Regions from separate parts of the Homo sapiens genome. Here region 2 is linked to region 1. The links come from fine-mapping of genetic effects on gene expression. Tissue or cell type: whole blood. Region 1 holds a variant in brackets; the other region holds the start of a gene. All regions are shown on one strand. Distances are from middle to middle.

Region 1 (5,306 bases):
TTTCAGAGCTAAATGATATGCATTTGGAGCAATTTTTTTTTTTTTTTTTTGAGACAGAGTCTTGCTCTGTTGCCCAGGCTGGAGTGCAGTGGCGCAATCTCGGCTCACTGCAAGGTCTGCCTCCTGGGTTCACACCATTCTCCTGTCTCAGCCTCCCAAGTAGCCCGGCTAATTTTTTTGTATTTATAGTAGAGACGGGGTTTCACTGTGTTAGCCAGCATGGCCTCGATCTCCTGACCTCGCGATCCGCCCGCCTCGGCCTCCCAAAGTGCTGGGATTACAGGCGTGTGCCACCACGCCCGGCCGCATTTGGAGCATTAATAACATCAAATAACAGGCATTGTGTTTGATTCACAATTGAACCTGGAACAGCAAACATGAGCCATCCTTTGGCAAGTCTGCCCGCACAAGCCTTGCCAGCAGCTCTCCTTTTTAGCCCACATACCTGTGCCTGGGCTCTGTGGTTTGTACCCTCCTTGGTCTCAGTGTGTTCCAGGGGAGAAGTGGTGGGTGGAGGCTCTTTACTGATTCTTGCCCTCCTCGTCAGTACTCTCAAAAGTGCTAGTTTCCTGTTTGTCTTGCATTCTGTCCGCTACCAGGGCTTGGTCTGCAAATGGAGAGCTCCCTCAAGAGTGCCCTTTCCAGAGAGAAGCCCTCACCTCTGCCCTGTGTGATGTCTCAGAAGCCACTACCAGATAGCCACGGTTTCTGCAGTCAAAGACGTGCTGGAGGGGACAGAGGTGGGCCTCTGGAGCCAGACCCCCTGGGGCTGACTCCTGCTTCCACTTTAGTCGGCCCTTGAACAACAGGGGTTTGGACTGCATGAGTCTACTTACATGTGGATTTTTTTCAACAAAAGTTACACTAAATTTGCCTGCCTCTCCTGCCTCCCCTTCAACTTCTGCTACCCTTGAAACAACAAGATCAACCCCTCTTCTTCCTCCACCTCCTCCTCTTCCTCAGCCTACTCAATATGGAGACAAGGCTGAAGACCTTTACAATGATCCACTTCAACTTAGTTAAGATTCTGTTATGATTTTCTTTTCTTTTTTTTTTTTTTGAGACAGTTTTGCTCTGTCCCCCAGGCTGGAGTGCAGTGATGCTGTCATAGCTCACTGCAGCCTTGAACTGCTGGTCTCAAGCAATCCTCCTGCCCCAGCCTCCAGAGTAGCTCGGATTTCAGGTGTGCACTGCCTTGCCTGGCTAATTTTTTTTTTTTTTTGAGACAGAGTCTTGCTCAGTTGTCCAGGCTGGAGTGCAGTGGCGCGATCTCGGCTCACTGCAAGTTCTGCCTCCTGGGTTCACGCCATTCTCCTGCCTCAGCCTACCGAGTAGCTGGGACTACAGGTGCCCGCCACCACGCCCGGCTAATTTTTTTTGTATTTTCAGTAGAGACAGGGTTGCACCATGTTAGCCAGGATGGTCTCGATCTCCTGACCTTGTGATCCACTTGCCTCGGCCTCCCAAAGTGCTGGGATTACAGGCGTGAGCCACCATGCCTGGCTTGCCTAGCTAATTTTTAATTTTTTTGGTAGAGACAGGGTCTCACTATGTTGCTCAGGCTGGTCTCAAACTCCTGGGCTCAAGCACTCCTCCCACTTCAGCCTCCCGAAGTGCTGGGATTACAGACGTGAGCCACTGCGCCCGGCCATGATTTTCTTAATAACATTTTATTTTCTGTAGCTTACTTTGTTGTAAGAATACAGTATATAGGCTGGGCGCGGTGGCTCATGCCTGCAATCCCAGCTCTTTGGGAGGCTGAGACAGGCAGATCATGAGGTCTGGAGTTCCAGACCAGCCTGGACAACATAGTGAAACCCTGTCTGTACTAAAAATACAAAAATTAGCCGGGTGTGGTAGCATGCGCCTGTAGTCTCAGCTACTCGGGAGACTGAGACGGGAGAATCGCTTGAACCCTGGAGGCAGAGGTTGCAGTGAGCCGAGGCCACACCATTGCACTCCAGCCTGGGTGACGGAGACTCCGTCTCCAAAAAAAAAAAAAAAAAGTCCGGGCGTGGTGACTTACGACTGTAATCCCAGCACTTTGGGAGGCCAAGGCAGGTGGATCATGAGGTCAGGAGTTCAAGACCAGCCTGGCCAAGATGGTGACACCTCGTCTCTACTAAAAATACAAAAATTATCTGGGCGTGGTGGTGGGCGCCCATAATCCCAGCTACTCAGGAGGTTGAGGCAGGAGAATTGCTTGAACCTGGGAGGCGGAGGTTGCAATGAGCCTAGATCACGCCACCACACTCCAGCCTGGGCGACAGAGTGAGACTCCGTCTAAAAAAAAAA[G/AG]AAAAATATACTATCTAATACATATAGCATACAAAATATATGTTCATGGACTGTTGATGTTATCTGTAAGGCTTCCCATCAACAATAAGCTATTAGTGGTTAAGCTTTTGGGGAGTCAAAAATTATATGCAGATTTTCTACTGCATGGCGGGGCAGCATTCCTAATCCCTGTGGTATTCAAGGGTTAACTGTATTTCTTGGTGACCTTGGACAAATTGTTGAACTTCTCTGTACCGTGGTGTCCGAAGTAAAGTAGTCCATTCAGGCACAGTGCTAGGACACCACCTGGCCTATAGCATGTGCTCGGTCAAAGTTAACTCTACTGTAATTCCTGCTTGGGTTGTTCTGGGGATACCTAATTTCTCCCCACCAGCCACTTCCCCAAGAATAGTGAGTGTGAGGGTCCTTACAGACAGGGAGATGAGAGCGTCACTCCTCTTTATGACCGTCAAAGCTCTGCAGGTGCTCGCCCTTCGGGTCTCTCCAGCCTCACCTGGTACCCCTCTCCCCCTTGCTTGCTTTCTGCAGCCATGGTGGCCTTTTATTCCTCAGACCCGTTTTCTTTCCTGTCCCAGGAAGGGCCTTTGCAGGTGCTCTTCCCACAGCCTGAAAGTTCCTCGGGTAGCTGGCTCTTCCTCACCCTCCAGGCCTCCAGGCCTCAGTTCAAATGCCTCTCCCTGGGAGAGGCTGGTCCTGACCACCACCGCCTCCTGCCTAAACACAGCAGATTCTCTCTCCCCTCTAGAATCCAAACACCAGGGGAGCAAGAGTAGAGTTGGTTTCATTCACCCCGGGCTCTCCAAGCATAGCAAACGCTCTGGAAGCACGTGATGAGTGGCTGGGTGACGAAGAGCTACGACCCGAGACATGGTACCCACATGGGTACCCACCCTATGGGTAGACACGAGCCTGGTGTCAGGAGGAACTGGGTTTGAATCCTTCAACAACTGTGTGGCCTTTCCTCTCTCTGAGCGTCGATGTCCTTATTCGTAGAGTGGATGATCATACCTTCCTTGCAGAGCCATTGCACAGATAGTGACATAGGCACACACAATACAGTCCTGGCTCACGCTCAGGAGACAGTGGCTGTCAAGTCAGGAGCCCGTCCTGCAGCAGCCTAGCCATCTGGAAGGATCACTCCTCGACATGCCGTCAATGCCTGGCACTTGGTAAGAATGAGTTTCTCACATTTCTCTGAAGGGATGGGGTGGGGGGCAGGTAGAGAAGAAGGCTCTGGGCACCTAGGGTGGGAAGGAAGAAGAGAGAGACTGGCCCTGAGGGTAGCCAGTGCCTCTTTGTTCATTTTCTCACCAGAATAACAGGGGAAATATACCATTTAGAAAGAGGCAGTGAGGATTAAATGAGCTAGCATATCCAGCACATAGAAGGCCCTCTCCCCATCCTCGTCCCTGAAAGCAAACTCCTCGATTTCTCAGTTTTGCTCTGGTTCCCAGGCTGTGCATGGAGGCAAACACAGGGCCCTTCACTCAGGCCAAGCTCAGGAGAGCCCAGGCTGCACCGAGTCCACACTCTCGGCTCATTTCCCTCAGTCCACCAAGAGGATGACACCAAGGCCCCCTCCTGTACCCCTGCCTCTGCCCCAGCAAGTCCTACTGAGATCCTGCCTGTTATGAAATGGGGCTGTCCCATTGGGTGCAGGGCAGATGGCACCATGCCTCTAGGAGCCTCAGCATGTGTTTCCAAGGAGACAGCCGTGTGTGTGTGTGTACACACCAACTTGTACCATCCAGTTCTTCAAAGGAAGGTGGAAAGAAGGGAATGAGGGTCAGGTTGCAAATGGGATGTAGGTGGAAGACGCACGACGCCAGGCCATGCTGCTGTTTGCCTTTCACAGAAAAAACCAGCACAGCATCTCACGGTTTGCAGACACTTTCACATGGGATAACTCACTTAATCTTGGCAACAAGCTCATGGCACAGATATTCTTTTCCGCTTTTTAAAGTCTGGAGATGGAGAGAGAGGGGGGCAAGTCCCAACCAGTGGGTTGTAGAATTAGGATTTGTGGCCTGACTCTGATCATAAGCCCCCTGCTCTCTTCCCAGGGCCACACTGCCTTGCCTAGAAAGGATTCTAGATCAGGAGTGCCCCTACGTGGGGATGCCGCCTGCCCAGCCCAAAGCAAAGGCCTTGTTCAGCCTTTGAGGTGTATGTTCCGGCTTCACAACTCCCTGAAACGGAGGCCTGAGTGACCGGAGATGGCAAGAAAATGGGAGGAGGTGTCTCTAAGCATGGCCAGGGCCCCATGGGAGAGGGAAGTATAGGGTATAAAATGCTAATCATATGATTTAGAGACACAGTGTCTTTCCAGAAGCTGGAAGAGAAAGACGTTAAGAGCTGGAGTGAGCAGTCTGGAACAGAATCAACTCTTGGAAAAGTATCCTTGGGAGACAGGTTGGGAGTGAAGACAGGAAGAGTGGTTTTCAGGATTTAGGGCCCAGGGACATAGAGGGGAAACTGAGTCAGGGCTTGGCTACAGACCCACCCTTTTGCTGGAAATGGATTTCTCTGCCAAAAGAGAAATTGTTTGAACTCATGGCCTAGAGTGAAGGCCACCAAGAAGCCATTGTCGTTGGAAGCCAAGGGAGTCTGGGAGCTGGTCAGCTCTGGTGGAGAAAGTCTGTTTATCCAGGGACAGGAAAGAGGCAAGGTCTACACGGGCTGGGCTGGGAGGCCCAGGGGCAGCACGAGGGAGAGGGACCCCAAGTCTGGGTTTCAAGGGGCATCAATGAACTAGAAAACGGAATGAGGCTGGGTGCAGTGGCTCACGCCTGTAATCCCAGCACTTTGGGAGGCTGAGGCAGCTGGATCACTGGAGGTCAGGAGTTTGAGACCAGCCTGGCCAACATGGTGAAACCTGTCTCTACTAAAAATACAAAAATTAGCCGGGCGTGGTGGCGGGTGCCTGTAATCCTAGCTACTCAGGAGACTGAGGCAGGAGAATTGCTTGAACACGGGAGGTGGAGGTTACAGTGAGCTGACGTTGCACCACT
Region 2 (5,306 bases), 86 kb after region 1:
AGTGCTGGGATTACAGGCATGAGCCACTGTGCCCGGCCAGAAACAGTGATGATTCTTGATTCTTCTGATTCACTGGGCACCCTTGGGCAAACCCCCTGTTCCTTTTCAAACCCCAGTCTCCCCATTTGTAAAGAGGTTTAAGATAGATTCAGGAGGCCGGCCACAGTGGCTCACGCCTGTACTGTACTCCCAGCACTTTGGGAGGCCGAGGTAAGTGGATCACCAGGTCAGGAGTTTGAGACCATCCTGGCCAATATGGTGAAACCGTCTCTACTAAAAATACAAAAATTAGCCGGGCGTGGTGGCGTGCACCTGTAGTCCCAGCTACTCGGGAGGCTGAGGCAGAAGAATCACTTGAACCTGGGAGGCGGAGGTTGCAGTGAGCTGAGATCGCACCACTGCACTCCAGCCTGAGCAACAGAGTGAAACTCCATCTCAAAAAAAAAAAAAAAAAAAATCAGGATATAGGAGTGACAGAATCCAGATTGCTAGGGGGTGCTGTCAGGCTGAGTTTGTGATTTTTAGCTTCGAATGTGAACACCTTCAGGCAGAACATCCACTCTCTAACTCCCCCCAAGCCCCACCAAGCCCCGACAAGCCCCATGACTTCCTGTTACCTCCCAGGTCCTTGAAGGCCACTGAATTTCTGTTGTCTAAGAATTCCCTTCCAGTTCCGAAAACCCAATGTCCTATCAGCTGGATGAGGACGGGATCAGCTAAGATGTTCCCCTGCCCACCTTCCTCTTCCCTTTGGGAGGTCTCTGTGTGAGGGCCAAGGAAAGTCTCAAGAAGTAAAATTGGAAAAGGGAGCCTGCGGATCACCCCAAGGAAAATCCAGACTGATTCGATCAGTCCTAGCTGGAAGCAGCACAGGAATAGCAGGAAGCCTATGACTCATTTTAAGCAAACATCCGGTAACCCGACTGGTATCTGGTTCAAATGGGGAAACCTGAAGCACCTATGACAGGCCAGGCCCAGAGAAGATACTGCCCAGATGGATACAGCGTCTGCTCTGGAGACCCTCCCAGGCTGAGGAGGAAACTGCCAAGAACAGTGTTAACTCTGTCAAAGAGCCCCAGAGTCCCAGGCCAACTGCTGTGGGGCTTTGCATCTTGCTGTGGGCACCTGCAGGAGGGAGAGACTCATGAAGTAGCATTTGACATGGGCCTTGTAGGTAAAAAGGAGAGGGAAGGTGGAAAGAGGATCCACATCTCAGGAACTTTGAGAACTGGGAGAGTTACACTCTGTCTAGAGCTTCAGTTTTCTCATCTCTGTGCTGGGAAGGGTGGTAATGATGCCCACTTCCCTTGTGGTGGTGAAGATTAAATGAGCTGTGTGTAAAAGGATATGGCATGATCTGTTAATTAATTAATTAATTTATTTATTTATTTAGAGACGGAGTTTCGCTCTTGTTGCCCAGGCTGGAGTGCAATGGTGCGTCTCGGCTCACTGCAACCTCCGCCTCCCGGGTTCAAGCGATTCTTCTGCCTCAGCCTCCCGAGTAGCTGGGATTCCAGGCATGCGTCACCATGCCCAGCTAATTTTATATTTTTAGTAGAGACGGGGTTTCTCCATTTTGGTCAGGCTGGTCTCAAACTCCTGACCTCAGGTGATCCGCCCGCCTCGGCCTCCCAAAGTGCTGGGATTACAGGTGTGAGCCACTGCGCCCAGCCTGCATGATCTGTTTAACTTTTTTTTTTTTTCTTTTTTCAGTTTTTGAGACAAGGTCTTGCTCTGTCGCCAGGGCTGAAATGCAGTGGTGCAATCACGGCTCACTGCAGCCTCAAGCTCCCAGGCTCCAGATCCTCCTGCCTCAGGCCCTTAGCTGAGACTACAGGCTTGCACCATCACGTCCAACTAATTTTTGTATTTTTTGTCGAGACAGGGTTTGACCATGTTGCCCAGGCTGGTCTCACACTCTCTCGCCTATAATCCCAACACTTTGGGAGGCCAAGATGGGCAACAAGAGTGAAACTCCATCTCAAAAAAAAAAAACAAAAAAAAAACGCTGTTTGTGTTTTTATGCTTAAATTCACACCTACAGAAAAGTTGCAAAAATGTTCAAAGAACTCCCATATTCTTCAACCAGATTAACTGATTAACATTTTGCCACATTTGTGTCTCTGCTTTCTCTATGTATATGTATAGGTATATTTCTTTTAACCATAAAGGTTGCAGACATCATGTCCTTTTTGTCCCTAATTATTTCAGCATTTTTTTCCAAGAACAAGGGCAGTCTCTTACATAACCCTGTACCATAATCAAAATTAATAAATTTAACATTGATACAATACTATTATCTAATATAGTCAAGTTTTGCTGTTTCAGTATTGTCCTTTATAGCAATCCCCACCCAGGATCCGATCCAGGACCATGTCTTGCATTCAGTTGTCTTTTTCGTTTCCTGTAATCGGCAACAGTTCCTCAGTTTTTCTTTGTCTTACATAATACAGACATTTCCGGAAGGGTACAGATCAGTTATTCTGTACCATGTCCCTCAGCTTGGGTTTCTCATGATTAGACTAAGGTCATGCATTATAGACCGGACGGTGACGCCGTGTTTTTCTCAGTGCATCACACAGAAAGCGTGCGATGAATGTCAGCTTGTCCTGCTGTTGATGTTAACGTGGCCGTTCAAGTGGTGTCTGCGGAGCTTCTCTACGATAGTTACTATTTCCCCTTTTTAATTATCAGGTAATTTGTGCATATTTATGTGGAAGCCTTCGAATGCCCTTTCAGTTTCATGGGACGGAAAAGAGTCTTTTCTTTCGGGAAATGGATACCTGTGTCTTGCCCAAGAGACCCAGCAGCCAGCAGTACCTGTTATCAACAAAGTTACGCGAACAAAACCTTTCCGGAAGAGCTGAGGGACCTGGGTGCAACGCATTCTGGGAATTGTAGTCTCTGGGCGCTCCCGGCTGAACACCTCCCTGCGGTCTCTGCGAGAAAGAGCCAGAAGCCACCAGGGGAGGGCGAAGAGGAGGGCGGTGGAGGACGCTCTGCGCGCGGTGCGCCATGGGACGGGTAGTTCGCGGTGCGCGCCCCATCGCGCTCCCAGATGGGGAACCGGACTACTCTACCCGAGAGGCCGCGCGAGCGGGGCGAGGGCAAGCCGGCCGGGGCCTCGAACAAATCAAATCGAAGCAAAGAAACTGCCGGCTTTCAAAATCCTCCTCCTCCGCCATCATCCGCCGCGGTGCGGAGAGCAGGTGGTGCTGGAAGCGCGTGAGGCCGGGAGCTCGAGAGAGCTAACAGACTAGCCGGCTGGACATCTGGACCGCTGGATCCGGAGGTGGCGACCCCGGCCTGACCCGGACCCTAAATCCGTCCCCGCCCCAGAGGGCGGAGGCGCGCGCTCGATTCCCCCCACGCGGCGGCGCCGCCTGTTTACGGTAGAGTCAGGGTCCCTTTCCTTTCCCCGTCACCTGCCTGGAACAGGGGTGCGGGGCGAGGAGGGCGTGGCGCCCGTGTGCGCCTTCTGCCTGCCCCCTCGGCCTTCTTCACTTAGCCTTCGACGGCCGAGCGCCCCAGGGGTGGCGGTGGGAGTGGGGTTGTTGAGCGGCGCTGGCTCCTTTCACAAATGGGGAAACTGAGGCTTAAAGGGCGTCTGACTCGCCAGAGCAGCTCAGCCTGCAGCTGCTAGCAGTGGCGTCTCATATTAGCATTGTTGTCAACCGGAGGCGGTGCGAGTCCGCCGGGGATTCCAGATGGGGCTCCTGCGCCGCCCGCCTATCATTTGCGGCCTGTATTCGCGCGTCGCTCCCGCAGAGCCACCTCCCAGCAGGCCCACGCCCGCGGGGGCCCCGGGCTGGCGCCGCTGTCCCTGGAATCGATGTGAGTCACTGCTGACGCTTTGCAGGAGCATGCATCTCACCTCAGAAAGTCTCTGACGTTGCTGCGGAGCGGGGAGAGGATGTTTCTCTATTAGCCCTTTGCTTTTGCTCTGGCGCTGATCCTTTGCTGACCTTGGACAAATCAATTTACGTTTCTGTGCTCCAGTTTCTTGGTTTATAAAGTGAGTGTGGAGGGGTGCATCTCTGTCTCGCTCTCTCTTGGACTGAGGAATGGGCCCCCGTTCAGCTGAGAAGTTCTGTCCCTATTCTATCTGGAGGCTTCACCACCACCTTTTACCCTCAAATTGTCCCATCTCAGAACTGCAAGAGATGCTGGGGTTTCAGGTTAATTTTTTTGTTGGTTTTTCTTTAAATTTTTTTATCTTTTTAGAGACGGTCTCCTTCTGTCACCCAGGCTGGAGTGTAGTGGAACGATCACCGCTGAACTGCAGCGTCGGCTTCCTGGGCTCAAGCGATCCTCCCACCTCAACCTCCCAAGTCATGGGGACTACAGATGCCATCACACCTGGCTAATTTTTAAATTTTTCTGTGGAGACAGGGTCTCATTCTGTTGCCCAGGCTTGTCTCGAACCCTGGTCTAAAGTGATCTTCCCGCCTAGCCTCCCAAAATGTTGGAATTACAGGTGTGAGTTATTGCACTGGGCTGGTTTCTGGTTAATTTATTTTTTGAAACAGGGTCTCCAGAAGTACAGCAGCAAGATCTCAGCTCACTGTAGCCTCCACCTACGGGGCTCAAGTGATCCTCCCACCTTACATCCCAGGTAGCTGGGACTGCAGGCACCTGCCACCACACCCAGCTAGTTTTTGTATTTTTAGTGGAGACAGGGTTTCGGCATACTGCCCAGGCTGGTTTCTAACTCCTGTGCTCAATCGATCCGCCCACCTCAGCCTCCGGAAATGCTGGGATTGCAGGAGTGAACCATTACACCCGACTCTGGTTAATTTTTTTTTTTTTTGAGACGGAGTTTCACTCTTGTTGCCCACGTTGGAGTGCAATGCCACGATCTCAGCTCACCCCAACATCTGCCTCCCAGATTCAAGCGATTCTCCTGCCTCAGCCTCCTGAGTAGCTGGGATTACAGGCATGTGCCACCACGCCCGGTTAATTTTGTATTTTTGGTAGAGACAGGGTTTCTCCATGTTGGCCAGGGTGGTCTCGAACTCCCGACCTCAGGTAATCCACCCACCTCAGCCTCCCAAAGTGCTGAGATTATAGGCGTGAGCTACCGCACCCGGCCTGGTTAATTTTTATTTTATTTTATTTTATTTTATTTTTTTGAGGTGAGTCTCGCTCTGTTGCCCAGGCTGGAGTGCAGTGGCGCAATCTCAGCTCACTGCAAGCTCCACCTACCGGGTTCATGCCATTCTCTTGCCTCAGCCTCCCGAGTAGCTGGGACTACAGGCCCCCGCCACCAGGCCCGGCTAATTTTTTGTATTTTTAGTGGAGACGGG

Evidence for each region. PIP is the estimated chance that this variant, and not a neighbour inherited with it, causes the effect.
Region 2: it holds the start of RANGAP1, and the variant in region 1 is fine-mapped to the expression of RANGAP1 in whole blood (TOPMed, PIP 0.98).

What each region holds. Positions count from the first base shown.
Region 1 is chr22:41,370,468-41,375,773 of GRCh38, reverse strand. LOC105373042 (a long non-coding RNA gene) reads left to right here. Exons shown (of 3, transcript XR_938271.3): 2 at 600-740; 3 at 3,041-5,126. It also overlaps a transcript of TEF not described here. Among named protein-coding and RNA genes, the nearest start is that of TEF, 8.8 kb to the left of the region's middle. The variant G/AG (reference allele first, on the strand shown) is at 2,296.
Region 2 is chr22:41,284,072-41,289,377 of GRCh38, reverse strand. It overlaps RANGAP1 (Ran GTPase activating protein 1), which reads left to right and starts at 3,191. Exons shown (of 16, transcript NM_002883.4): 1 at 3,191-3,392. RefSeq lists enhancers at 2,299-2,348, 2,669-2,738, 2,769-2,988, 3,419-3,488.